6 separate regions of the Homo sapiens genome follow, and regions 1, 2, 3, 4 and 5 are each reported to be linked to region 6. The links are microRNA targets in miRTarBase. Many come from high-throughput screens and were not tested one by one. Region 6 holds a microRNA gene; each other region holds the end of a gene's coding sequence.
The links. Region 6 holds the annotated microRNA hsa-miR-30a-5p (UGUAAACAUCCUCGACUGGAAG, at 1,902-1,923, opposite strand). A microRNA usually pairs through its seed, bases 2 to 8, with sites in the 3' UTR of a target mRNA and lowers its output. Matches are read on the target gene's strand: a 7mer-m8 pairs with bases 2 to 8, a 7mer-A1 pairs with bases 2 to 7 and ends in A, and an 8mer does both.

Region 1 (4,089 bases), not on the chromosome of region 6:
GAGACCATCTTAGATAGACAGATCGATAAATAGACAAATAGACAGATAAAAACGTACCTTTGGGGACAAATTAAATGGTTATCTAGCCATTGCTTCTTGATGTTGTCTTAGCCCATCTAAACATACACTGCCAGGGCCTAACATAAGTACAAAAGGTTCAGCTATTATTTGTGGTTAGAGATAAAGTAGTATGAAGAAAACTGACATGCTACTTCAATTTTTAAATGTCAATATTTAAATCATTAAAAAATAAAAGAAACAAAAAAAAGAGTCTACTTGGGCCACTGTTTAGAGAGAATTCAACTATAACCAGGACTGTCAACCCAGAGAAATTTTCTTTAGTTACATTTTATTGTGACTCTAAAGGTTTCATACTCCAGAGGACGGGGGGAAGGGATTACTGAATCTAGAAAAGGTACACATGTTCAAAGCAACACAATTTAAAGAATGCTCTTCTAACATACAACATATCTCCAATTTCACTGGATGTGAAGAAATACCAATACACTAATGAATACAACTTAATCATCTCACTCCTCAGAAATCTAAGAGCATCAGAAATAAGGCTTTATATATGAGGCTTTATATATGCAAAATATAAAAGTATCCCTAAGTAACATTAAATGTATATATTAAATTTAAACCAAAGAGTATGCTAATCTAGAAATGATGTTTCCCCATTAAGTCTGGGAAAGTTCCAAGGCCACAGAACCAATCTGTCTTCAATCAAAAGGAAATCTTTAGCTTTTGACTGAATTTTTTTCTTTCCATGACTAAGTAAATAAATCTGCTACATCTCAATTACCCTTTAAGCAAGATTTTGAGATCCACTCTTTGACAAACTGAAAAGCACTGAAAATAAACATTGCTCTTTCAAAACACCGATCCCATAATTCACTTTCCCCCTTTTCATTTTTGCCCACCCGAGTAGACTTTCGGGGAAGGACAGAGAGAGGAAAGACGGAAAGGAGAAAGGGAAGAAAAACTGATTCATTTAAGAATTTAAATTATTTCATCTCTTTTTATTACTTGACCTACCATTAAGACAATCTATAACAAAAAAAGTATATTAGCACACATGGTATAATCAGACTGGTAATCAGGAAGCAATACAAAACGGTCCTTTGGCCATCTATACTTTCTAGAGCAGTAAATCTCATAAATTCACTTACCAAGCCCAGGAATAATGACTTTTAAAGCCTTGAATATCAACTAAGACAAATTATGCCAATTCTGATTTCTCACATATACTTAGATTACACAAAGATAAAGCTTTAGATGTGATCATTGTTTAATGTAGACTTATCTTTAAAGTTTTTAATTAAAAACTACAGAAGGGAGTAAACAGCAAGCCAAATGATTTAACCAAATGATTTAAGAGTAAAACTCACTCAGAAAGCATTATACGTAACTAAATATACATGAGCATGATTATATACATACATGAAACTGCAATTTTATGGCATTCTAAGTAACTCATTTAAGTACATTTTGGCATTTAAACAAAGATCAAATCAAGCTTTAAGCTTGTAAGAACGTAATTTTCATTTTTAATTTTTTAAATATAAAAAGGTAGCTAAACACAAAGTACAGATCAGAAACCCTCATTTAATATAGATTATTTTGGAAATTAAAAAATTTGTAACAAGGTGGCTTTCTTACCCACCCTAAAATGTAAATAAAACCTCTTCCCCAGATTTATACTTCATACTTGGTAACAACCTAAAAGTTTTTCAAATCTATGAAAAAAATCTACCATGACCAATTTAAATTACCTGGGAAAGGGCAGGAGAAGGGATCAATAACAGAGTCAGTTAGTTGCACACAGATGGAAAAATGCTTGCAGTCACTCCCAAATATAACCCTACATTACCTTATATATAAATCACAATGAAAATAAAAGTGCCTACATTACAGAACTGTGAAATTTTGTTTAAAAAAATAATAAAAATAAACTGTTGGGTATCATTGGAATAATGTAACACATAAGGCTGGAAAATACTGAAATACAGTTAAGACTCAATACACAAGTTTACTTTAAAAAAGAAAAGAAAGAAAAGTTTGCCAGAGAAATAAATGCTAGATAGGAAAGCAGGACTTTCAGCAGGATAGCCTTTCAGACCAATTTGAAGCAACACAGACACATTATACCCTACCATCAACCCACCAGAAATTCTAGCTGAATAAAAAGGAAGGAAAAAAAGACTAAACCAAAGTAAAAAACTTCTTCCAAAATCTCATGCCCCAGTGAATGTCACGGGGAAAATTCCCGACACTGAACTTTGTCCGCCTGGCATTTCTCCCTTTAGCAGCATCACCTCTATTTCTCTGTTAGGACATTTGCTCCATCTGTATCTAGTCACAGCAAATCCAATCTCCTGGAATCAGTTTAATGAGCAGAGGAGATTATACTGGAGTCAGCTGAAGGACATACTTTAACCAAACGCTCTAAATTAACAACCAAGAATGTAGACCTCAAATTCTTATTCTCAATTCAGCATCTGATCAATTATTTGGCACTAGCTGGATAAAGGTCTAATCGGAATTTGTGAGCCGAGGCAGATGTAGTTAAATACTAACCAATATTTGCAATCTATGAGTTAGTTTCAAACTTAAAAGGCAGGTATAGATAGCCATACTCAAAAGTATTTCAGAATTGGAGAAGAAACATTAATAACAAGATATAAATAAAACCAGGCAGATTAGCTTGGCAAACAACAACTCTGGAAAAAAAAAAACTGAACCAATCATATCCCATTGATAATTAGCAAAAATGGGCATTTTTCCACCCTTAAACTAGTTTAATTACAGGCAGATGTCTTTCTACTATACTAAGATTTTCTATATCCATTTTCCCTAATCTTTAGAGTTTAATGAGAAACCATTTATTCTACAAAGAAATACAGCATATATGGCCACAGTCTAAATACGCTTATAACTGGACAATTATGTCACTTAAAAAAAAAATCTTGCACTGTTACATCATTACTCTATGGTAATTCAATAGGTGCTGGGATCTGCCCTCACCAAAAAGCATGGCACTCACTGCCCAGGGTGAATACTAACACTGCACAAAGAGAAGCAGTAACAGCAAAGTCTCCATAGAACTCTTTCTATTTATTTAACTGTGTATGAGCATTTAGTTAATGCTCCAAATTGAAAATGGTGCAATAAAAGCAACTTTCAATATATAAACAGACAGGAAGCTGCGATGCCAGTGGCCACTTGGCGCTGCAAGTAGGGAAAATAAAGCAGTTTGCATGAGTGAAGCATGGATTGGGGAGAGGAGAAAAGGGAGGCACAGGAGGCAGATTTCAGACAGACAGTGACACAAAACTGTTGTACTGCTGGATGTTTCGTTTGAGGATGTCTGAGCATGGGCCAAGAACACGTTCAAATCTAGGTCGGTCCAGCTTAACGCACTTCAAGGGGCCACGAGCAACAACTGTGGCAGCACGAGGACGATTCATCAGTAGTGCAATTTCACCTGGAGAAAGCAAAGATGGGTAACAGGCTAACTTCTATGAAAAACATTTCCTTAAAGCAGTGCACTTCTGAGAAAGAAGACAATAGATATGAGACAATCAGTAATTTCATTAAATGAGTAAAGATCAAAATCTCACACCTTCCCTCTCAGAGCCAAAAAAGACTGCAGTTAGAAAATAAAATTCAGGAGAAGACAAAATTATGGAAGACTACAATATCTCACTGAGAGGTGACTTAAAGAAACCATGTATTTATTGTGAGGGAATTCATACATACCAAAATAATCAGAAGGCCCCAATCTTCCCACTTCAACAAACTCTTCATTTTCTGACCGACGTTGTAGCACAGCAGCTGACCCCTATAATAAAATCACCAAAAAGCTAAACAAACACACACTCTCAAACCCAGGGTGGCACCTTAAACATCCTATGCAATTTTAACTACCTTGCAAATGTGTGCATATGATAAAAAATGACTTTAAAGTTAGTCACCACATGAGCTTCAATTTCTATTTTACCAGCATCTCCTGCTAGCGAGGTTCTTCGTATCAAGCTAAGGTGCTTAAAGGGTGCACACTTGGGTTAGCAAACTGTAGATGAAGGG
Region 2 (4,089 bases), not on the chromosome of region 6:
GATTTTTTCCTTGTTAATAAGCATGTTATATAATGTTAATCTTAACTAGAGGTCCTCCTGCTTTATCTTAACTAGATTCGTGTGAGGGATGACAAGATGCCTTTGGCGCACCTTGCAATAGCTGTTGAAGCTGTTGGTTGGGCACATCCAGATACAATCTGTCTCATGGTTGCAAACACGCTGATTGGCAACTGGGATCGCTCTTTTGGGGGAGGAATGGTAAGTGATTTTAAAAGAAATTTTCCATAACAGATGGAAGATTATCATGTTTTCTTAAATATAAGTTCTTTGTAAGAATCCTTTTTTAAAGTGGCAGAATAGAGTCTTGTACTGTGAATTCTGACTTAAAAATATAAACTGATCCTGGATTGCATGTGGGCCAGAAAAAGTTTCTTTTTTTCTTTGCCACAAAGTTTATTAGTGGCAAAATTTGAATAAGGACAGAATTAGCTAGAAGTACTATGTCAATGTTAATATCCTAATTTTAATAGTCAGTAGGCCCTCTATATCTGTGGGTTCCATATCCGTGGATTCAACCAACCATAGGTGGAAAATTTTGGGGAACAAATGGATGGTTGCATCTGTACTAAACATGTATGGACTTTTTTTTTGGTCACTTCCTAAACAATATAGTATAACAACTATTTACATAGCATTTACATGGATTGGGTATTTATCTAGAGATGATTTAAAGTATACAGGAGAATGTGCTTATATGCAAATATTACATATACCATATTACATGAGGGCTCTAGCATCTGTGGATTTTGGTATCCACAGGGATCTGGGAACCAATTCTCCACAGATACTGAGGAACTATACCAAGGTGATGTAAGAACATTAATTTCCTTGTTTTTCACAAGTACATACTAAAGTATTTGGGGCAAGAAGCATCACATCTAAAACTCAGTTGAAAAAACTTGTATAAAGAGAATAAAGCAAACATGGTAAAATAACAGGGAATCTAGATAAATGAAATTCTCTGTACTGTTTTTGCAACTTTTTTGTAAGTTGGAATTATTTCAAAACACATTGTATAGATTTGTCTTTACTCATAGATTTCTCCAAAATACATTTCATCTAAATAATCTTAAGCTTCATATGCAATATAACTTTGAATCTTTAAGCGTATGTAGCCAAGAGTCCTAGAAATTGGGTTGATAATAGCCATCTAGTTTTAGAAGTAGGTATAGCTACTACATTAATTATAAGGACTCATTGCTTTTATAACATGAATTTCTCCAGGGGGTGCACTGGGTAAGTGAGATAATAAACACAATTCTTAGTCATACTGAATTTTAACTCTACTACTGAGATGTTGAATAAAACTAGGAAACAGCCTCTAAGGATATTCACTATTTTCCACACACTCCATTTTTCTTTCTGTATTTTGGACATGTATAATTAAAATTCTCTTGGAATTTTTTTTTCCTTGCAGAATTTATCTAGCAAGCTGGCCCAGCTCACTTGTCATGGCAATCTTTGCCATAGCTTTCAGTCTTTCAACACTTCCTACACAGATACAGGATTATGGGGACTGTATATGGTTTGTGAATCATCCACTGTTGCAGACATGCTACATGTTGTTCAAAAAGAATGGTGAGAAAAATAGCTTTAAGTAATTTAAATTTTGCCTTTAATTCGTTTTAAACTAGTTTTTTATTTATACTTTATGGTGATTTATGGTAATTTTACCTTTTAATTAAGAGACCTAGATAAACAGTAGTTGCCATGTTTTCAAAGGTTGCAGTTGGTTTTTCCTAAGTCTCAAGATGTGAAGCTGATTTATACTATAGAATTTTTTTTTTTTTTTTTTTTTGAGATGAGGTCTTGCTCTGTTGCCCAGGCTGGAGTGTAGTTGTGCCATCTCGGCTCACTGCAGCCTCCGCCTCCCAGGTTCAAGCCATTCTCCCACCTCAGCCTCCCGAATAGCTGGGATTACAGGCGCACCACCATGCCCACGATGCCTGGCTAATTTTTTGTATTTTTTAGTAGAGATGGGGTTTCACCATGTTGACCAGGCTAGTCCTGAACTCCTGACCTCAGGAGATCCACCCTTCTCAGCCTCCCAAAGTGCTGGGATTACAGGCGTGAGCCACCACACCTGGCTGAAAGTTTTAATCTTTCAGAAGCAGGTTAATTCAGAAAGATGATCCTAAAAGTTTAAAAGCCAACTAGAAGTTGTTTGGAAAATATCTCTGAAAGTAATCTGGTTGAAGGGAAAGTAAATCTGAAGTTGCCACTGCTAAAAGAAAACAAAGTATATTGAGTCGATAGATGGGCAGAAAGGCTCGCAGCTTCTTGGAAAACATTTAGCTCTGGTTCCTTTCCTCCACTATTCTTAATTGGTTTACATCTTTCTAAATCTAGTCAACTAGGATGTAATTATTGTTAAAAATTAGATTTAAGTTAGACTCTACTCATTGTTTTCAGAAACCAATGAATGACCCACTGACTTAACCCATAGCATATCAGACTCCAACAGATGAGGACTCATGAAGTCTCAAGATGCTTATAGCATTTCTGAAAATGTGATCAGCCCATTTGTATAAAGCCTTTGTCTGCTAATGTGTAATTAGGCATGTTTATGTATCATTTTTGAGAAATTAATACTGGGGAAAATAATCATTTTAGCTTTTGCTTAGCATTGGAATTAAATTGTAATCACCTGTATGTTTTGTGTAGAAGATGGCATCATCATTCTTAGGTCATTAACTCATGAAATACAACATTTTCCAACTACTACTGTTTTTCCACGTTTTTTAGGATGCGACTCTGTACAAGTGTCACAGAAAGTGAGGTTGCACGAGCCAGAAATCTTCTGAAAACAAACATGTTGTTGCAGCTTGATGGTAAAAATAAAGATATAGGTTCTGTTTTCATATGGTTGATCTGTATTCCAATAGTTAATTTTTCCTTCTCTTTAAACAGGTTCAACTCCAATTTGTGAAGATATTGGTAGGCAAATGTTATGCTATAATAGAAGGATTCCCATCCCTGAGCTTGAAGCAAGAATTGATGTAAGTAGTCCTGAGTTACTATTGGGTCATGTGTAAAAAGATCCTTGTTACAAAAGCTGAGAATATGTATCTTTCATCTTGCTTTAGTTTTAAAAAGTTCCAGGTATAGACTTTGTTTTTACTACAAACAGCTGAATGACAGTGTCTTCCATATTTCAGGCTGTGAATGCTGAGACAATTCGAGAAGTATGTACCAAATACATTTATAATAGGAGTCCAGCTATTGCTGCTGTTGGTAAGCCTGGCTTCTTTTCTTCTATGCAAAAAGTTGGCCAAGTACTTTTAATTAACTCTTCTTTTTAATCCTTAGGTCCCATTAAGCAACTACCAGATTTTAAACAGATACGCAGTAACATGTGTTGGCTTCGTGATTAAAATGCTCCTAATCAAGATTGTTTGAACACATGTATTTATAAAACAGAGCTAGAGAAAAATAAAAATGAACATGTATATACATTTGGAAATTTGAATTAAATACTGTATCATACTTTCAAAGGATAAAAAGACTACCCCTCTGAAGGTTGTTTTGTATTAATGGTCAGTCTTTGTTCTCTGAGAAATTATGTTGGAAGCAGCATACTTTCAAATTATTACCATGAGTATAATTTTAAGAATGAAAATGTTTACAGTATTTTCAGTTTTATTATAAAAATGCACACACAACAAAGATTGTCATTTCTTGGCTCTACTTGCATTCAGCACTTGTTCTTGAGCAGCTTTCTTTGCTTTTACCATCTCGACAAGTTCCTAGGAAGGGAGAAAGGTGTGATTTAAGAAGTTGCGATTTAAAAACAGACATTTTAATCTAGTGTTTGGTGTAAAGAATTCAAGCAACTAAGATAGATAGTACTAAATATACTGATTTCATTATCTGCCAGGGCCTAGAAAGTTTCTAAGGTTGCTCATTTCTTCCTCATAATATTGACCCCATAACTACTGGTTTTGAAATAAGCACTATATTATTAACCACTTAATAGACATAAAATATGAGCTATATCACCCAAGCTACAATTTAAAATACAACAATCTATAAACGCTTAAGTCTGCAACCTTGTATCGTTTCATGCAG
Region 3 (4,085 bases), not on the chromosome of region 6:
CCAGCAGATGTTCGATGCCAAGAACATGATGGCCGCCTGCGACCCGCGCCACGGCCGCTACCTGACGGTGGCCACCGTGTTCCGGGGCCGCATGTCCATGAAGGAGGTGGACGAGCAGATGCTGGCCATCCAGAGCAAGAACAGCAGCTACTTCGTGGAGTGGATCCCCAACAACGTGAAGGTGGCCGTGTGTGACATCCCGCCCCGCGGCCTCAAGATGTCCTCCACCTTCATCGGGAACAGCACGGCCATCCAGGAGCTGTTCAAGCGCATCTCCGAGCAGTTCACGGCCATGTTCCGGCGCAAGGCCTTCCTGCACTGGTACACGGGCGAGGGCATGGACGAGATGGAGTTCACCGAGGCCGAGAGCAACATGAACGACCTGGTGTCCGAGTACCAGCAGTACCAGGACGCCACGGCCGAGGAAGAGGGCGAGATGTACGAAGACGACGAGGAGGAGTCGGAGGCCCAGGGCCCCAAGTGAAGCTGCTCGCAGCTGGAGTGAGAGGCAGGTGGCGGCCGGGGCCGAAGCCAGCAGTGTCTAAACCCCCGGAGCCATCTTGCTGCCGACACCCTGCTTTCCCCTCGCCCTAGGGCTCCCTTGCCGCCCTCCTGCAGTATTTATGGCCTCGTCCTCCCCACCTAGGCCACGTGTGAGCTGCTCCTGTCTCTGTCTTATTGCAGCTCCAGGCCTGACGTTTTACGGTTTTGTTTTTTACTGGTTTGTGTTTATATTTTCGGGGATACTTAATAAATCTATTGCTGTCAGATACCCTTGCTTGGTGCCAGAGATGTCCTTTTATTCTGGAAAGTTGTGTCCAGTAGGTGGAGGGGCTGACAGGGAGGCCCGGGTGGACAGGCAAGAAGAGCTCATCCTCTCCCAGGCTGGCGGCTGAGAGAGGCCTGCGCTGGGGGCCGGAATGTGTCTCAAGGCACAGCCCGTGGGGAGACCCCGGAAACGGGAAGCCCGGGAGAAGGAACGGGAAGTACCTCATTCCAGACCTCAAGATGCAGCCCTCCCGACTTGGAAATAACCCCACACTCGTTCCCTGGCCTCCCACAGAGCGGCTTGCACCCCAGACTTTTCTCCCACCTGTCTGTAGGCTGAAAGTTGGGGCAGGTGGTCCCTCCTGCGGTGGAAACTGCCATCAGACCTGAAGCCTCGGGTCACAACCAGGGAGGTAGGGAAGGGGGCCCCGAGTGCTCCCTGAAAAAGACGGTGTGTTTAGTGTCTCGGGGCTGGGCCCTGGGAGGGGCTGCTGAGGTCAGGGAGATGCGGCCACAGGACGCAGGCCTGGGCTGCCGGGAGGGACGTATCAGTCCTCCCGCCCCCGGCAGCCCCTTCCTGGGGTGCATGATACTTGGTGTCCAGCCACACAGGGCATGGCCTGAGGAGCCGCTCACCTGGTTCCCCACATCCTCCTACAGGGACAGAGCCTGGAGCCCAGAGAGGCCGACTGCCCAGCCCTCCACAGTCGCCTCCCTGCCACCCCGCCCCTTGGAGCTGAGGGGCATCAGCAGCCTCAGTCTCCCAGGTTCTGCCCAGTGGTACCCTGAGAGCGGCCCCTTCTTCTTGAATCACCCTTCAACCTGGCAATGGGCGCAGAAGAAGACAGGCCGTGTGCACTGCGGGCCCCAGCTTCAGATGCGAGGGCTGCAGGCCCCAGAGGCCGCCATCTCGAGTTCTGGCCCTGACACCCCCAACATGGATGGGGCCGGGGATGTGTCTCCTCCGCCGGCTGCTGCTGTGTAACAAATCACCCCAAATCTACCTGAAACAGCACGGGATCCTTTCTCTAGACACAGCGTGTTAGCTGGATCCTTCTGCTCCTCACAATGTTGGGAGGGGCCAGCTGCAAGCTCTGACATCTCACTCTTGGGGTTGTCCTCCGCACGGCTGCCTGGCCGACCCCTCGCATGGTGGGGCGGAGGCTGGAACCACGTCTTACATGGCACCGGTTCTTTTTTTCTTTGTGACAGAGTCTCGCTCTGTCGCCTAGGCTGGAGTGCAGTGGCGCAATCTCAGCTCACTGCAAGCTCCGCCTCCCGGGTTCACGCCATTCTCCTGCCTCAGCCTCCTGAGTAGCAGGGACTACGGGCGCCCGCCACCATGCCCGGCTAATTTTTTGTATTTTTAGTAGAGATGGGGTTTCACCATGTTAGCCAGGATGGTCTCCATCTCCTGACCTCAGGATCCGCCCACCTTGGCCTCCCAAAGTGCTGGGATTACAGGCGTGAGCCACCGTCACTGATTCTTAAGTGTGCCAGACCCATGTCAATCACAGGCCTGGCATCACTGTCCCATATTCAGTGGGTTCAAGCAAGACCAGAGCCAGTGCAGATGCAGGCAGGGAGGGAAAAGCCCTGTGGTGCGGACTCTGGGGTGTGGTTCCTGGGAGGCTGCCTGAACACAGCCTGGCTTGCACCTGCAACTCCACACATGCGGAGCTGAGCTCCTGACCCCCAGCCCTGCTTCTCCACATCCCTCAGGTTGGTGATGCCAACCACGACACCCCAGGTGCTCAGGGCAAACAGCCGGGGTCACCAGGTATAGGGTCCAGCCCCATAGGGTCGGTGGGTCTCTCCCTGTGTGCGGCGATGACAGAGTGTAGAAATAAAGACACAAGACAAAGAGATAAAAGAAAAGGCAGCTGGGCCCGGGGGACCACCACCAGCAAGACGCGGAGACCGGTAGTGGCCCCGAATGTCTGGCTGCGCTGTTATTTACTGGATACAGAGCAAAAGGGGCAGGGTAAAGAGTGTGAGTCATCTCCAATGACAGGTGAGGTCACGTGGGTCACGTGTCCACTGGACAGGGGGCCCTTCCCTGCCTGGCAGCCAAGGCAGAGAGAGAGAGGGAGAGAGAGAGACAGCTTACACCATTATTTCTGCATATCAAGAGACTTTTATACTTTCACTAATTTGCTACTGCTATCTGGAAGGCAGAGCCAGGTGTACAGGATGGAACATGAAGGTGGACTAGGAGCGTGACCACTGAAGCACAGCATCACAGGGAGATGGTAAGGCCTCCGGATAACTAATGATTAATGATATTCATATATAATCATGTCTATGATCTATATCTAGTATAACTCCTGTTGTTTTATATATTTTATTATACTGGAACAGCTCGTGCCCTCGGTCTCTTGCCTCGGCACCTGGATGGCTTGCCGCCCACAACCAGGGGCTTTTCTTCCCCTCAGGTCCACATCTGCTTTGACAGCAAATCTGGCCAGCTGCACCTTCAGAACACGCCCACAGCCCAGCACCCCTCATGTCTGCTGCTGCCTCGGGTCTTCCTCGTCCCGTCCGTGCGATTGTCTCCTCACTGGGCTCCCACAGCTGCCTGGCCGCTCCTCACATGCAATTTGGCATCTGCTCCCGTGCCACGCTGTCCTTCATATCCTCTTGTTATATATGCCCCGTCCACACCACGTCCCTAATGTTCTAGAACATTGGGGCCCGGGGAATGCCCTCCACTTGAGTGTCCTCCCTGCAGATATCCGACGGCATCACCCTAGGGGACCCTTCCTGGCCCCCCGTGCTCTGAACTCTCCTCCCAGAGCTGCTTTCTGTGCAGCACTCAGCACCCACTTCAGGAGACTGTGCCTTCAGGGGAGGGGTCAACAAAGAGGGTCGAATGGCAGGAATGGGCCTAATTAAGGGGTCCTGGAGCACTGAAGGTGAAGGGGTGGGAGGGCTGGACCCTGGTGAGAACTGGAGCTACAGGAGAGGCCACCCCGGCTGAGCTGAGGTCTCTGAAGGGTAAGAACCCCATCAGAGCAGAGGGAGCCCCGGAGCCAACACCCTGACCTCTCTCTCCTCCGTCCCCCGGCCTCCAGGCACCCTGACTTCTCTCTCCTCCGCCCTCCAGCCTCTTGCTGAGCTCAGCTGGAAGTCAGGGGACGTCCAGGTCAGCCTCCAGGCAGAGAGGAGGGCCAGGAGGCGTGAGAGGTGGGTCTGGGGCCAGTGGAAGGTGAGAACCTGGCCCAGGTCTAATGTGTCATTTAGTCCCCAAGTGTCTCCTCCACGGGGTCAGCTCCACAAGGGACTTCTGTGTTGTTCCCGTTGGACCCCTTAACCTA
Region 4 (4,089 bases), not on the chromosome of region 6:
CTTCCTAAGTACAAGGACACTTTTGAAAGAAGACAAGTGTGCTGGGTGGGTGGACACCAAGTCCCTGAGAAGGAATCCCAGCAAAGGGGCAGCAGCTCCACCTGCTGGGCCCTTTTCCACCCTGGCACCAGGAAGCAGTTAGAAATCAGAAAAAGATTGGCTAGGAGCAGTGGCTCATGCCTGTAATCCCAGCACTTTGAGAAGCCAAGGAGAGGTGGATCGCCTGAGATCAGGAGTTCGAGACCAGCCTGGCCAACATGGCGAAACCCCGTCTCTGCGCCTGTAATTCCAGCTACTAGAGAGGCTGAGGCAAGAGAATCGCTTGAACCCAGGAGGCGGAGGTTGCTGTGAACCAAGATCGCGCCACTGCACTCCAGCCTGGGTGACAGAGCAAGACTCTGTCTCAAAGAAAAAGATGAACTTATTCAAGAATAAAGCTAGGGCTTGACACTCTCCTGCTTTGGTGGGAAGGGCCCTAGGATGCAGCAACAGACTAAGACTGAGCCAGGCTTACTGAATTCTCTGTTGGACAGACCTGAAGGGTCCACATCACCATAGAACTGCTGTTTGGAGACTTGGTTTGTACAAGAGACCTGAGCCAAACAAGTCCTGACTCAGAAAATCCCTCCAGCTCCATAGGCTGCCCACAGCCCCCTTGGCACAGCTAGAGCAGTATGCCACCAACAGCCCAAATCACCCCTAGGCCAAAAAGGGCGGCTAAGCAAACAATACTCTTCCCTCCCCAACAAGCCAAGAGTCTAGGGTCCCACTGAGTACCAAAGCGGCAAAGCCCTGGCCAATTCTCAGAATACATGGGGCTGGGGCCTGTCTTTGCTTAGTCACAGGGACAGCCAATCTCTTTGCTTAAAATCCTTGAGTCTTGGAGACAGCACTCAGTGTAACAGCAATTCAGAACACCCAGCTCCCCTTACAGCACTCCGATTACCTTCAGCCTGGAACTCACAGTACACCAAAAGGATGCACTTTCCTGCTCCATTTGGCCTGGGAGTGTGGCTCTTCAAACGTCACTGTTTGTGCTCCTGTGCCAGACGGTGTGTAGGTATGCCTGTACCTGTTTATGAGGCCTGAGTTATATGTGCCTTGTGCATCTGTGAACATGAGATTCCATGAGGCGAGCCTACCTTCATGTGGGTGTGTGGTTCGTGAGAAGGCATTTAGGTCTATTCCCTATCCTCTCCCCCACTTTCCCACCCAGCAGGGGCAAGAGACGGAGCAGCAGCATCCAGCTGTTTGACCCCAGGATCAGACTGCTGCTTAGTCTGCTCACTCCCCTGTCTAGTATCACTATGATGAGTCCCTTCCCTGGTTTGATCCTCAAGTCTCTAAAACTTTCAGCATTGACTGAGCTCAGCACCTCCCCAGAAGGGAGTGCATACACACAATGGGAAGCATTTCCTTCCTGAAGGCAAAACCTACTGGTTTCTGTTTCCTGACCCTTCTTGCTGTTTTCCAGGGCCCCTGATTTAAATTCCACTGGGTACACCCTGAGGAAACAGGCTTCTAGTCTAGGCTTGTACAGGAAGCTCACAGTCATGGGCACTTATTAAGCATTAACAATTTTCTTTTAAAGCCTTACAATCCACACATGGCTGTTCTCCCTCCTTGGTGTAAGGGCTACGCAAGCCCCCCAGAACCCCGCTCCCTGTTCTCCCATGTTTGCTCTAAGCATGTTCAGTCCTGTCCTTACTGTCCTTGGCCTATAATCCTGATATGGGCAAACAAAGGAAGGAGAGAACCAGAGAAGAGAAAGAAGCTGGCCAACACACCCAGGGGTCCATATTCCCAGAGTGAAGGTCTGCACCAAGCTATTCTAGCCTTGGAATTGTGAGTTGGCATGGAGTGCAGAGGACAGAGACACAGCCAGGCCTATACTGATTTGAGCTTCATCAATAAGGAAGAGGTGCTCCCGTAGGTTCCTTGTTCCAAGAGTTTCTATCTGCAGCTGTTAAGTAAGAGAAAAAAATTCCTCCTTGGATAATTTATGAAGCCACCTGAATAGCCAATAAAAGAAGAATGAGTGAGGGTAAAATCAGTCTATCCACTAGATAAAACACTATGCAATCATTAAAAATAATATTTATTTTAACGTTTACTCTAGCATATATTACTGTAAAAAACTTTTGTGATGTAACAAACTGGGAAAGAGCTAATGATTTAATTAAAAAGTAGGACATCGGCCGGGCGCGGTGGCTCACGCCTGTAATCCCAGCACTTTGGGAGGCCGAGGCGGGTGGATCATGAGGTCAGGAGATCGAGACCATCCTGGCTAACAAGGTGAAACCCCGTCTCTACTAAAAAAATACAAAAAAAAATTAGCCAGGCGCGGTGGCGGGCGCCTGTAGTCCCAGCTACTCGGGAGGCTGAGGCAGGAGAATGGCGTGAACCCGGGAAGCGGAGCTTGCAGTGAGCCGAGATTGCGCCACTGCAGTCCGCAGTCCGGCCTGGGCGACAGAGCGAGACTCCGTCTCAAAAAAAAAAAAAAAAAAAGTAGGACATCAAATTGTTTACTGTAACTATAAAACACAAAAACATGGACAAAAAGTGATGCCTCGTTTTACAAAATGGAGGAAATCAACTAGACTACTCACAGTAATTGTCCACCTCCACAGCTCTAGCTCCTAGCACAGTTAAGCATGCAATAAATATTTGTTATTATTGAATAAGCACTGGGATTAGGAATGAATTAATCTACTTTCCAAATCTGCTGTAATGAGATCCTATGTTTCATAACAAAAAAAATTATGGGCTGGGCATAGTGGCTCATCCCTGTAATCCCAGCCCTTTGGGAGGCCAAGGTGGGAGGATCGCTTGAGGCCACGAGTTCAAAACCAGCCTGGCCAACATGGCAAAACCTGGTCTCTACAGAAAATTTAAACATTACTCAGACATGGTGGCACATGTCTGTGGTCCCAGCTACTCAAGAGGCTGATGCAGGAAGATCACTTGAGCCCAGGAGTTCAAAGTTGCAGTGAGCCATAATCACACACTGCACTTCCAGCCTGGCAACAAAGACCCTATCTCAAAGAAAAAAAAAATTAAGTATATAAAAATAAGACTAATTTCACAATCCAAAAACAATTACAGAAGGGAGGGAGATTTAATGTTGTCCATAGAAAGACATTAAATGTCAGACTGACAATTTAGTTATGGTTACAAACCGGAAAACCATGCCATTTGGAGTAATGGAATTTGAAGTTACTAGAAAACGACAACAGATTTTTGATACAGAATGACAAGGCTTATCTATAACACGTCAACGTTTTCGACGACTCTGAAATTTATAAATAGCTGGGGAGTTCACCGTTTCTTTCTTCACCTTCACTTTCTGAGTTTTATCCTACAAAAGAGTAAAAAGGTGATCAGTAAAGAGAAGGAAATGGTTTTGTAAAATCGAAAGGTTAATAAACTACCTATTAGCACCTGCTTCAGCCCTTCTCAAAGTTGAGAACGGACACAGCCCTACTGCCCAAGGCATCCACTGTAGGCAATGAATTAACTTCTCCCCTAGGCATCTAGAAAGTACTAGCTGTGTACAGTCCTAGGAAAACTGAGAAGAAAGGTGTTCAAGTAGTTGTTTCATTTAAAATTATAATTTTAATTCTCTCACGGAACCCCAGTTGAGAAAGGCTGACCTAAATGATCTACAAAGCTAAAGAATTTGACATTTAGAGGAATGATAAGAATATGAAAGAGGCATCTTATATTCCTCAGCTCTGCTATTTAACTACACAATGTTGTCTATTTTTAAACACCAATGAGTGACATGCACTGTTTTGTTAACCTGTTTAAATGTTACGGGAGCTGCTCATAAGCTATAAAGTTCATATGCTACCCGATCCTACCCTTTGCTGTTCCAAAGCACTGACTAATAACCCCCTTATTACCTCCTTAATCAAGGCGCATTTCAACACTGTCAGAGTAACAGACACTGGCTCAAACCACTGCCCCTGAGGAGCAGACATTTTCACTGGGGTTGATTTACACACAGCTGAAATCTAGTCTGAGTTAAGACCTTTACAAGAAAGAAAAGGGGGAAAAAAAAAAAAAGAGGCCTAAGGCTCTCTCTCC
Region 5 (4,089 bases), not on the chromosome of region 6:
AGTCCACATCAAATTAAGCATGCCCTAAAGGGCAGCTGGGGTTCAGTTCAAGAGTTGAGTTTTAACACACACCTTTACCTGCCTTAAAATTGGGCAAGGTATCACAACGTTAAACCATTTCTCACAAGGCTCGTTGGTGATGTTTAAGATTTTTTGTTTGTTTGTTTGTTTTTTGTTACGGAGTCTCGCTCTGTCGCCCAGACTGGAATGCAGTGGCGCGATCTTGGCTGACTACAACCTCCGCCTCCTGGGTTCAAGCGATTGTCCTGCCTCAGCTTCCTGAGTAGCTGGGATTACAGGCGCCTGCCACCACGCCCAGCTAATTTTTCTATTTTTAGTAGAAACGGGGTTTCGCCTTGTTGGCCAGGCTGGTCTTAAGTTTTGCATCCTGGCTCCCTCCTCTTACCTAGTCCCAGCCTCTTGTCTACAGGACAAAGCAACTTTCTGCAGTTTTCTGTTTGCTCTTTAGAGAGACGGGGCCCTAATTTGGCAAAGTGGTAGGGGAGACAGGGCTGGTGTTTAAGGTCGACCAAAGCAACATCTAAATCTCTGCTCTTCCCCCAAATTGTCCAAATTAGCAGCAACAGGTGTGCACCTTCCAAGCTTGCAACAGACCACATTCAGAAGCTTGATTTCTTGTTGTTCTGGGAATATCTGGATCAGAGGTAACATGGTTCACTAGGACTCCTCAGCTTCACCCAGTGTCCATTTCACCTCCCCCGGCCTTCCAATGTCTCTTCTTGCAGATTTCTCCAAGCCACTCTCCCCGTCATCTCCTCCACCCCCAGGACCCAACTCCTGCCCCTCCCACCCTAGCCCCTGTTCTCCCTGCCCACCTCCTACCCCACTGGAGTGGCCTTTCATCAAACCTAAACCAAAGAAACCAACAGACCTTGCTGTCACCACTACTCCGGGACCTGGAAGTTAAAGCGAGGGAGAGACGGTGAAACACAGAAAGCAGAACGCCTTCTGTTCTTCCACAACACAGGGTTTGTGGACGTGGCCACTATAAGAACTCGCACTGCGTGCTGATTATACTCCTCAGCACAATTCATTTCTTAAACTTTTTAGAATAATTTAAAATTTACAAAAAGTTGCAAAAATAAAAACCAGTAAACTTTTCACCTTCATCTGCCTTATAATTAAGGCAGCGGGCAGCGCGCTGGACAGAACGGGAGGGGCTTGCGCTTTCCGCCGGTGGGAAACCCCACCCGCAGGGACGAGCCGGGACCATCTGGCCCTACCTGCCGAACGGCCGCTTGGTGGAGATGTGTCCCAGAACCGAAGGAGGAGGGTGCCACGCACATTTGTCTTGCCTTCCCCGGTGGCGGGGGCATGGCAAGGGCGGAGCTTCCCGCTGTGCCCTTGGAGGCCGCCTGCAACCAGGCTAGTGTAGGTGGGGACGCACGCCCTGTACCCTACCCATCCTGCCCATTGCGGGTCTGGCCCGGACCTGAAGGGCAGTAGTTGGGGCCGTCCCCGCGTCTTCTGGGCCCTGTAGTGAATACAGTCTGCCCCATTCAAATCCTTTTCCTCACTTAGGATTACTGCTGTGTGTCAGTGTCACACACCCCAAATTGATAATGGCTTAAGATGGGATTTCTCATTTAAAAAGAAGTCTTTGGTTGAGTGAGCTGGGGCTATTTTGGTGTTTCCACATGGGACCTAGGCTCCTTTTAGCTCAGCACTATCCTACGTCTAGGGTATGGCTGAGCTGTTCTCTTGGCCAAGACTGAGCCAGAGCCCGTGGTCAGGTCAGCATAACCTTTCCAGGCAGCAGGATAGAGTGGGAAAGAAAGAAGGGTCTGTTGAAGGAAAATTCCCCCAAGTTCAGTCCTACTTCATTGGCCAGAACTTAATCACATGTCAGACCTAGCTACAAATTGAATGAGAAAGTCAAGTATTTAAGGTGGGTCCCTTATCTCTCAAAACACTGGGCTTCAGATAATAGAGAAGGGAAGGGGTGTCAAGAGGAAACGGCTACCTGTGTCACTGTGCTTATCAGGATTCTTACCCTTCTCAAAATTTCCCATTGCAGTATCTTGACTACCCTATCCCAAACCTAGCACACTTTTACCAAAGACAACTTAACTGGGGAAGCTGCAGCATGGCAGGCACATCATCTATTGGTCCAACTTCTATAGGGTTTTCTATTCTTTACATTGAAGAAATGCAATTGGGTTTGGCCTTTAGGATCAGTAACAGCAGCTTCTGGTTCTGATGTCCTCCATCCTAGTTTCAGTGCTTCTTCCTCTCAGAATCAGTGCTGATTCACTTTCTCTTTATCAATGAGTTTAATATAGTGGCTTCATTTATAAGCAATTAGCTAACTCTAGTATTTCATCTGTTCTCATCATTTAATTCTCAGCTAAGGTGCTAAGGTAGGGCCCAGCCATCTGTTAGGTGATTCTGCTATATCCTAAGGTGATGTATCCTAAAAGACACCTAGGGTGCTTTTAGAAACTGCCCATGCCCAGCCGTATCCTCAAAGATTCAGGCAAACAATTAGCCGGGTGTGGTGGCATGTGCCTGCAATCCCAGCTACTCAGGAGGCTTAGGCACGAGAATTGTTAGAACCCGGGAGATGGAGGTTGCAGTGAGCCAAGATTATGCCACTGCACTCCAGCCTGGAACAAAACCAACCCCCCTACCCACCACCACACACACACACACACACACACACACACACACACACACACACACACACTCAAGCATGGTTGGGTCTGGAGTATGGCCTTGGCATAGGTAATTTTCAGTGTCCCAAGGGATTCTAGTGTGCATGGGGCTGTGAATCACAGCTCCAGGTGGGCCAACTATGTGCACACTGGTGCCTGGGGTAGGTACTAAGCCCTGATCCTCACCCCTGTGCGGGTGCTTCCTATTATGCTTTCTGCCTTTAGCCCTCCTCCTCCCTCACAACCTGGTCAAACACATCAGACAGGGAAAGAAGCAACATGTGTATTATTAAATTATTTGTCAGAATTTCCAGAATCAGAGTCTCTACTGGGCAAGTAGAAAAATAGAAAAGTTTACTACTTTGAAAAGGAAACTATGACAAACAAGTATATATTCAGGAAAGGGACTCCTAGAACTTGAGCAACAAAAAAGAGTTCAACCTCGGCACAGTGGAGTCTGCAGTGTCTCCGCAACAACAGAAATGAACTTGTGTTCCTCACATCCTTGAGAGTCGAGGTTTGCATTTCTCTACAGAGCTAGGGCTGAATGAAGCAAAGAGACCTCTGCCACCCCCACTAGCTGGCCCAGTCCTGGAAGCGGAAGCAGTCACTTGCGATCTTCCACACTGTGTTGCTGGGTGAGGCCTGGGCGGTCAGGATGAAGTTCTGGTTGAAGTCCCGTTGTTTGTTCCCCTCAAACTTCACTGATCCACAGATGACAACAAGGACCGTGGTCTGGCTTGGTGTGGCTTCATCATGAACAGGCTGGCAGTCTACCACGCTGATTTGGAACTCGCTGGAAGGCAACATTTCAAAAAACTCACTCAAGGATTCTTGTCCTGAAACAGCATTGCCATTCCAGACCAGGGTGGCTGTGCCCATGTACAGGCGGGACAGCAAACGCCGCCGCTTATCCATGGTGGTGTAGTAGACATTGACAAACTCCTCAGCAGCTCTGCAGGCCTGATCCACATAGGTCTTGAAATCCACAGATGCCATCTCTGGTTCTATGGAAGGAGGGCTCCACCAGGGTATTTCCTCTGCCTTGGGGAACCAGGGGCTGCAGGGAAGTAAGGTTGAAGAGAAGCCACGTGAATGCCAAAGTTCATTCTGCCCTGACAATGGAACATTCCTCCTTTTCTACTACTGGCAAAATAGTTACAGACTGCAGAACAATGACTGTAGGCTCAAATAGTACCCAATGCCTAAAAATGCCTAATTTTACTAAGACTCAGTTTGCTCACTGTTAAGATGGGATTACCACTGTGGCAAACTGAGATAGTATACCTTAAGTGTTTAGTTTAAAAACATTTAGTTATAGTCAGCACTCCATATCTGAGGGTTTTGCATCCACAGATTCAGCCAACCTCAGGGCGAAACCTGCAAATACGTTGGGCTGACTGTGCTATGCCAT
Region 6 (4,089 bases):
ACCACACCCAGCTAATTTTTGTATTTTTAATGGAGACAGGGTTTCACCATGTTGTTCAGATTGATCTCAAACTCCTGACCTCAAGTGATCCACCTGCCTCAGCCTCCTAAAGTGCTGGGATTACAGGCGTAAGCCACCGTGCCTGGACTGTTGATGTTACTTTAAAATAGTAGTTTACATTATTACTGTGGAAATGTGGGGCACAAGACATAAGAAATACTAGGTATTAATTTTGAAACTACCCGGAATGGCTTATGGAGGTTTGTATTTGTTGATTTAAAAATAATTAAAAATGCTGTAATTTTTACAAATTAAAAAGTTCCCATAACTAATTATTTACATGAACAAAATGAACAGATAAAAATGAAAAATGGAAAATTTAGGGGCAGTAAGGTAAGGAAGAGGATATAAAATAACATAGGAAGAGAACCTAAAGAAAGTGAAGGTCAAAGATTTAGGAAAAGTTTAACCATTTCTTCAAACCTATAGTCATTTACCTAGGAAATACGGTCGGGTGACCCCAGAAAAACAGCCGAGTTATTTGCTCCAGGGGTTTTCAGCTTACCAATTAAAATAGACCACATTCTCAGTTCCAGACCCAGGGCCTGGCAGAGGCCTCTCCAAGCCCCTTGCATTTCAGTGGCAGTTGATGAACCTCTCATGGCCCAGCATGACTAATAGAGTTTTGATAGCTTTATGTATGAGGGAAACTTAAAGACATTTCTAACACATATTTCTCTCCATCCCAGGTATTAGAAGAAATGCTACTATTTTAAATAGTGGTATGATCATACTGTTTTAGTATCACTTCTTTATCATCATCATCAATGGGTATTAAACAGGGAAAAGAAACTCTTTTACATTAATGGAAACACTATATATTTATAAAATACTGTGTTTTAGAGGACAAAAGATATCACTTTCATATCTTTTTAAAGTGTCTAGTTTCTATATAAGTGTATCCTTAATATTTCTATTATACACTTAAATATTTCTCTTATACACTTAAATATTTCTATTTAAGTGTATAATATTAAAAATATCCGCCATAAGAAAAATACGCATTTACAAAAAAGGAAAATTAGAAATTATGTCCATCACAGAAATCTTCTACAGGATTCTGAATCTTAAAATTGTCTTCATATATTTAGGATAGAATTTGATGTATTTATTATTTTTAAGAGATATGAGTTATTGCATAAAGCTAAGTTAAAAGTTCAACCAAATGGAAACAGTATCCACAAATTCCTAAAATACTATTCTAATCATCTGAAACAAGAATAGGTTTTTCAAATAATAGAGTTAGTTGAATCAGTATTTGTTTGTTTTAGACACTTTATTAAGCTGAGAGCTGCTACTTTATTACTTAAACACTAAGCCTATAAGGAAATAAAAGGGGTTTAATCCAAGTAATGTGAAAATAACTAACCCTTCATCTTACTTTTTTCCCCCAAATAATTGTGGTTTCATTAATGGATTTTTTTTTTGTGAATGGGTCTAAAAAACACCTATTTTGAAACTGCAGAAAGGGCAGGACAAAACAAATCACTTCATAGATTTTTCTGGGAAATATTGCCCTACTACGCTTTTAAAAAAAATAAAAATACTGTAACACATTTCCTCATTTCTCTTACGAATACTTTCTTTTTGATATTGCAAATTCTATGCATACACAGAGCACCTCCTCAATGCCCTGCTGAAGCCCTCTAAAAATGTACAGACATGGTTTTAAAGTGATTTAATTTATACCATTTTAATTCAGCTTTGTAAAAATGTATCAAAGAGATAGCAAGGTATTCAGTTTTAGTAAACAAGATAATTGCTCCTAAAGTAGCCCCTTGAAGTCCGAGGCAGTAGGCAGCTGCAAACATCCGACTGAAAGCCCATCTGTGGCTTCACAGCTTCCAGTCGAGGATGTTTACAGTCGCTCACTGTCAACAGCAATATACCTTCTTTAGCCTTCTGTTGGGTTAACCTGAAGAAGTAATCCCAGCAAGTGTTTCCAAGATGTGCAGGCAACGATTCTGTAAAGTACTGAAGCCTCATTCAAACAGCAATATTCTAGAAAATGTCTCAAATTCAAAACAAATAAGAAGGCTCATGGATGTCTATTATTCATCACCGAGCTTCTAGTTTCTATAAAATTTTGTGATATACTAAAACAACATATATAAATGGTTTCATTCATTATTGTTAGCCACAAGAAGTAAATAGGCAAGTGGCCAGGTTACTTAATATGATTTCAACATGCATTATGTAATTACAATCCTTTAAGCAAAAGTGACCAAACACAGAAACTAAATTATCTTAACAGCGTAAAGCGTACATTTAACATCAAATACTGCAGTTGAGTGAACTTAGACTACCGTGAAAATATAAAAGGTCTACTTGGAAAGTTATAAACTCTGACAAAAAAAAAAAAGACTTACATGCTGCTTTTATAGATCACTTTTGCTCTAAAGTCTGCTCCCAGAGAGGACTTGTACAGTCAGCTGATTTTTGAAAGAGTAAGCAACAATCAGGAGAAAAACAGAAAAGAATAACGAGGTATAACACAGGCATATATCAGTATGTGGATCAAAGTTTCCCACTGGAAAAACACAGAACCTATCACTCACAACAGTGACGCACATTAACTCCAAATTTGAATGTTTTGAATTCCACTCCCATTCTCTTATGAAAATAAATGAGGAAAACTGAAGGTTAAGCTCTATCAGTCACTACTTTCCTGAAGTAATTCAAAACCATTCTGAATCTAGTGAAAGATTAAGTTGATACAGAAAAGTGGGTGTGCCTTTCCCTGAGATTTGTTTTTAGATGAAGTTACCGTAAGGTTCTTAAATTGTGTAAGTCTTAGTAGTTTGTGATCTCAAACCCGAAACAAAAATAAAATCCACACAAAAAGCATCATGTTTACTGAAACTAACAAATATGAAGAACTCCATAAATTACTTTCTCAAAGCAAAGGGTAACTCTATCCCATTAAGGTTAAAAAAGTTAATCTTTGAGTCAGCAGGTGAAAACAAGCTGAATTATGTTGTGGCCTTTTTCTTTATTAACTAAGGACTTTGAACTATTAAAACTTCCTAGGGAACCAGTTTTCTCAATGGGTCAAGTCACACAGGGGAACAAAGCAAACTTTATCAGTGCTGTGCAATTCTACATTCCAGAAATTCTTAGTACTTGGCATTCATATACCACTGCTGACTAGAGCTTGAGTCAATCCACCAAACTCAGCTATGGCTACCAACCTTGTGAACTTCTCACCAAGATACCCACTTCTTTTAAGTTAGCCACGACTAGACAGGCAGAGTACTCTTTAATTAAAATAGATAAATACCAAGGCTTACACCCTGGGGGGACATTGTATATCAGTGACTCTTTACAAAAAGAAAATATTTTTACCACCATAAATTTTTCTCAAAGTGACAGGTCCCCTACTTGCCTTGGAATCTTACCACTTTTAAATAACTGTAAATTATTAAATAACATGTAAAACAGTGACAAGTAAATACTAAGCAAACAACCTCAAATAACAAATAATTACTTAAATAATTCTATTGCCACCCTCTCACTTTGAGAATTGCTGATCCAAGTGGGACCTATACTACTCAGTAACCAAAAAAACAAGCATGTAGTTTAAGTAATAATGAGTCTCAGTTAAACTGGTAAAATTGTCTGGCATCTGACTGGAATAAATCTGCTTTAGCTTTCACATAGACTTCACCTAGCTCATATCTTGCTAAAAGAGGAGCCCACATACATACAGGCAATAAAGTGCTTTTCCATTTATGAAGTATTATAACTAAGATCTTATGGTCTTTAATTATTTTGTTTAGTGAAAATTTGATGTTTATTCATGAAGTTCTGAGCAAAACGCTGTGTTTTCAAAGTTATGTTAAGGAATTCATTGGATCAGCAATTCTCCAAGTGAGAGGGTGGCAACAGAATGACCAGGACAGCTTCTTCTAACCCCACATACCTGATTGCCTCTGCCACATCCACATTGCAATTCTTATTCAGCTGATGGGGAGGCTGCTGGGTATGTAAATTTTGCAAAAGCTATCAAACAATTTTGCTACACCTTCA

Region 1: the mRNA of PRKAR1A is a reported target of hsa-miR-30a-5p. Seed matches in the 3' UTR shown: 7mer-m8 at 1,341-1,347.
Region 2: the mRNA of DNAJC2 is a reported target of hsa-miR-30a-5p. The part of its 3' UTR that is shown has no 7-base or 8-base seed match.
Region 3: the mRNA of TUBB3 is a reported target of hsa-miR-30a-5p. The part of its 3' UTR that is shown has no 7-base or 8-base seed match.
Region 4: miRTarBase lists UTP11 as a target of hsa-miR-30a-5p. The part of its 3' UTR that is shown has no 7-base or 8-base seed match.
Region 5: the mRNA of NXT1 is a reported target of hsa-miR-30a-5p. The part of its 3' UTR that is shown has no 7-base or 8-base seed match.

What each region holds. Positions count from the first base shown.
Region 1 is chr17:68,529,675-68,533,763 of GRCh38, reverse strand. It overlaps PRKAR1A (protein kinase cAMP-dependent type I regulatory subunit alpha), which reads right to left. Exons shown (of 11, transcript NM_002734.5): 10 at 3,763-3,844; 11 at 333-3,487. The coding sequence ends at 3,315. Among named protein-coding and RNA genes, the nearest start is that of PRKAR1A, 19 kb to the right of the region's middle.
Region 2 is chr7:103,308,877-103,312,965 of GRCh38, forward strand. DNAJC2 (DnaJ heat shock protein family (Hsp40) member C2) reads right to left here. Exons shown (of 17, transcript NM_014377.3): 16 at 4,071-4,089; 17 at 3,413-3,767. The coding sequence ends at 3,693. PMPCB (peptidase, mitochondrial processing subunit beta) reads left to right here. Exons shown (of 13, transcript NM_004279.3): 8 at 76-219; 9 at 1,439-1,599; 10 at 2,767-2,852; 11 at 2,932-3,020; 12 at 3,180-3,255; 13 at 3,331-4,089. The coding sequence ends at 3,395. Among named protein-coding and RNA genes, the nearest start is that of PMPCB, 13 kb to the left of the region's middle.
Region 3 is chr16:89,935,321-89,939,405 of GRCh38, forward strand. It overlaps TUBB3 (tubulin beta 3 class III), which reads left to right. Exons shown (of 4, transcript NM_006086.4): 4 at 1-777. The coding sequence ends at 484. Among named protein-coding and RNA genes, the nearest start is that of DEF8, 11 kb to the right of the region's middle.
Region 4 is chr1:38,022,814-38,026,902 of GRCh38, reverse strand. UTP11 (UTP11 small subunit processome component) reads right to left here. Exons shown (of 8, transcript NM_016037.4): 8 at 2,083-3,358. The coding sequence ends at 3,275. Among named protein-coding and RNA genes, the nearest start is that of UTP11, 12 kb to the right of the region's middle. RefSeq lists enhancers at 1-134, 301-800.
Region 5 is chr20:23,353,627-23,357,715 of GRCh38, reverse strand. It overlaps NXT1 (nuclear transport factor 2 like export factor 1), which reads right to left. Exons shown (of 2, transcript NM_013248.3): 2 at 2,945-3,735. The coding sequence starts at 3,674. The coding sequence ends at 3,252. LINC01431 (long intergenic non-protein coding RNA 1431) reads left to right here. Exons shown (of 3, transcript NR_109884.1): 2 at 579-665; 3 at 747-1,122. Among named protein-coding and RNA genes, the nearest start is that of LINC01431, 2.5 kb to the left of the region's middle. RefSeq lists an enhancer at 74-163.
Region 6 is chr6:71,401,694-71,405,782 of GRCh38, forward strand. It overlaps MIR30A (microRNA 30a), which reads right to left and starts at 1,928; the gene lies at 1,858-1,928. RefSeq lists an enhancer at 396-924.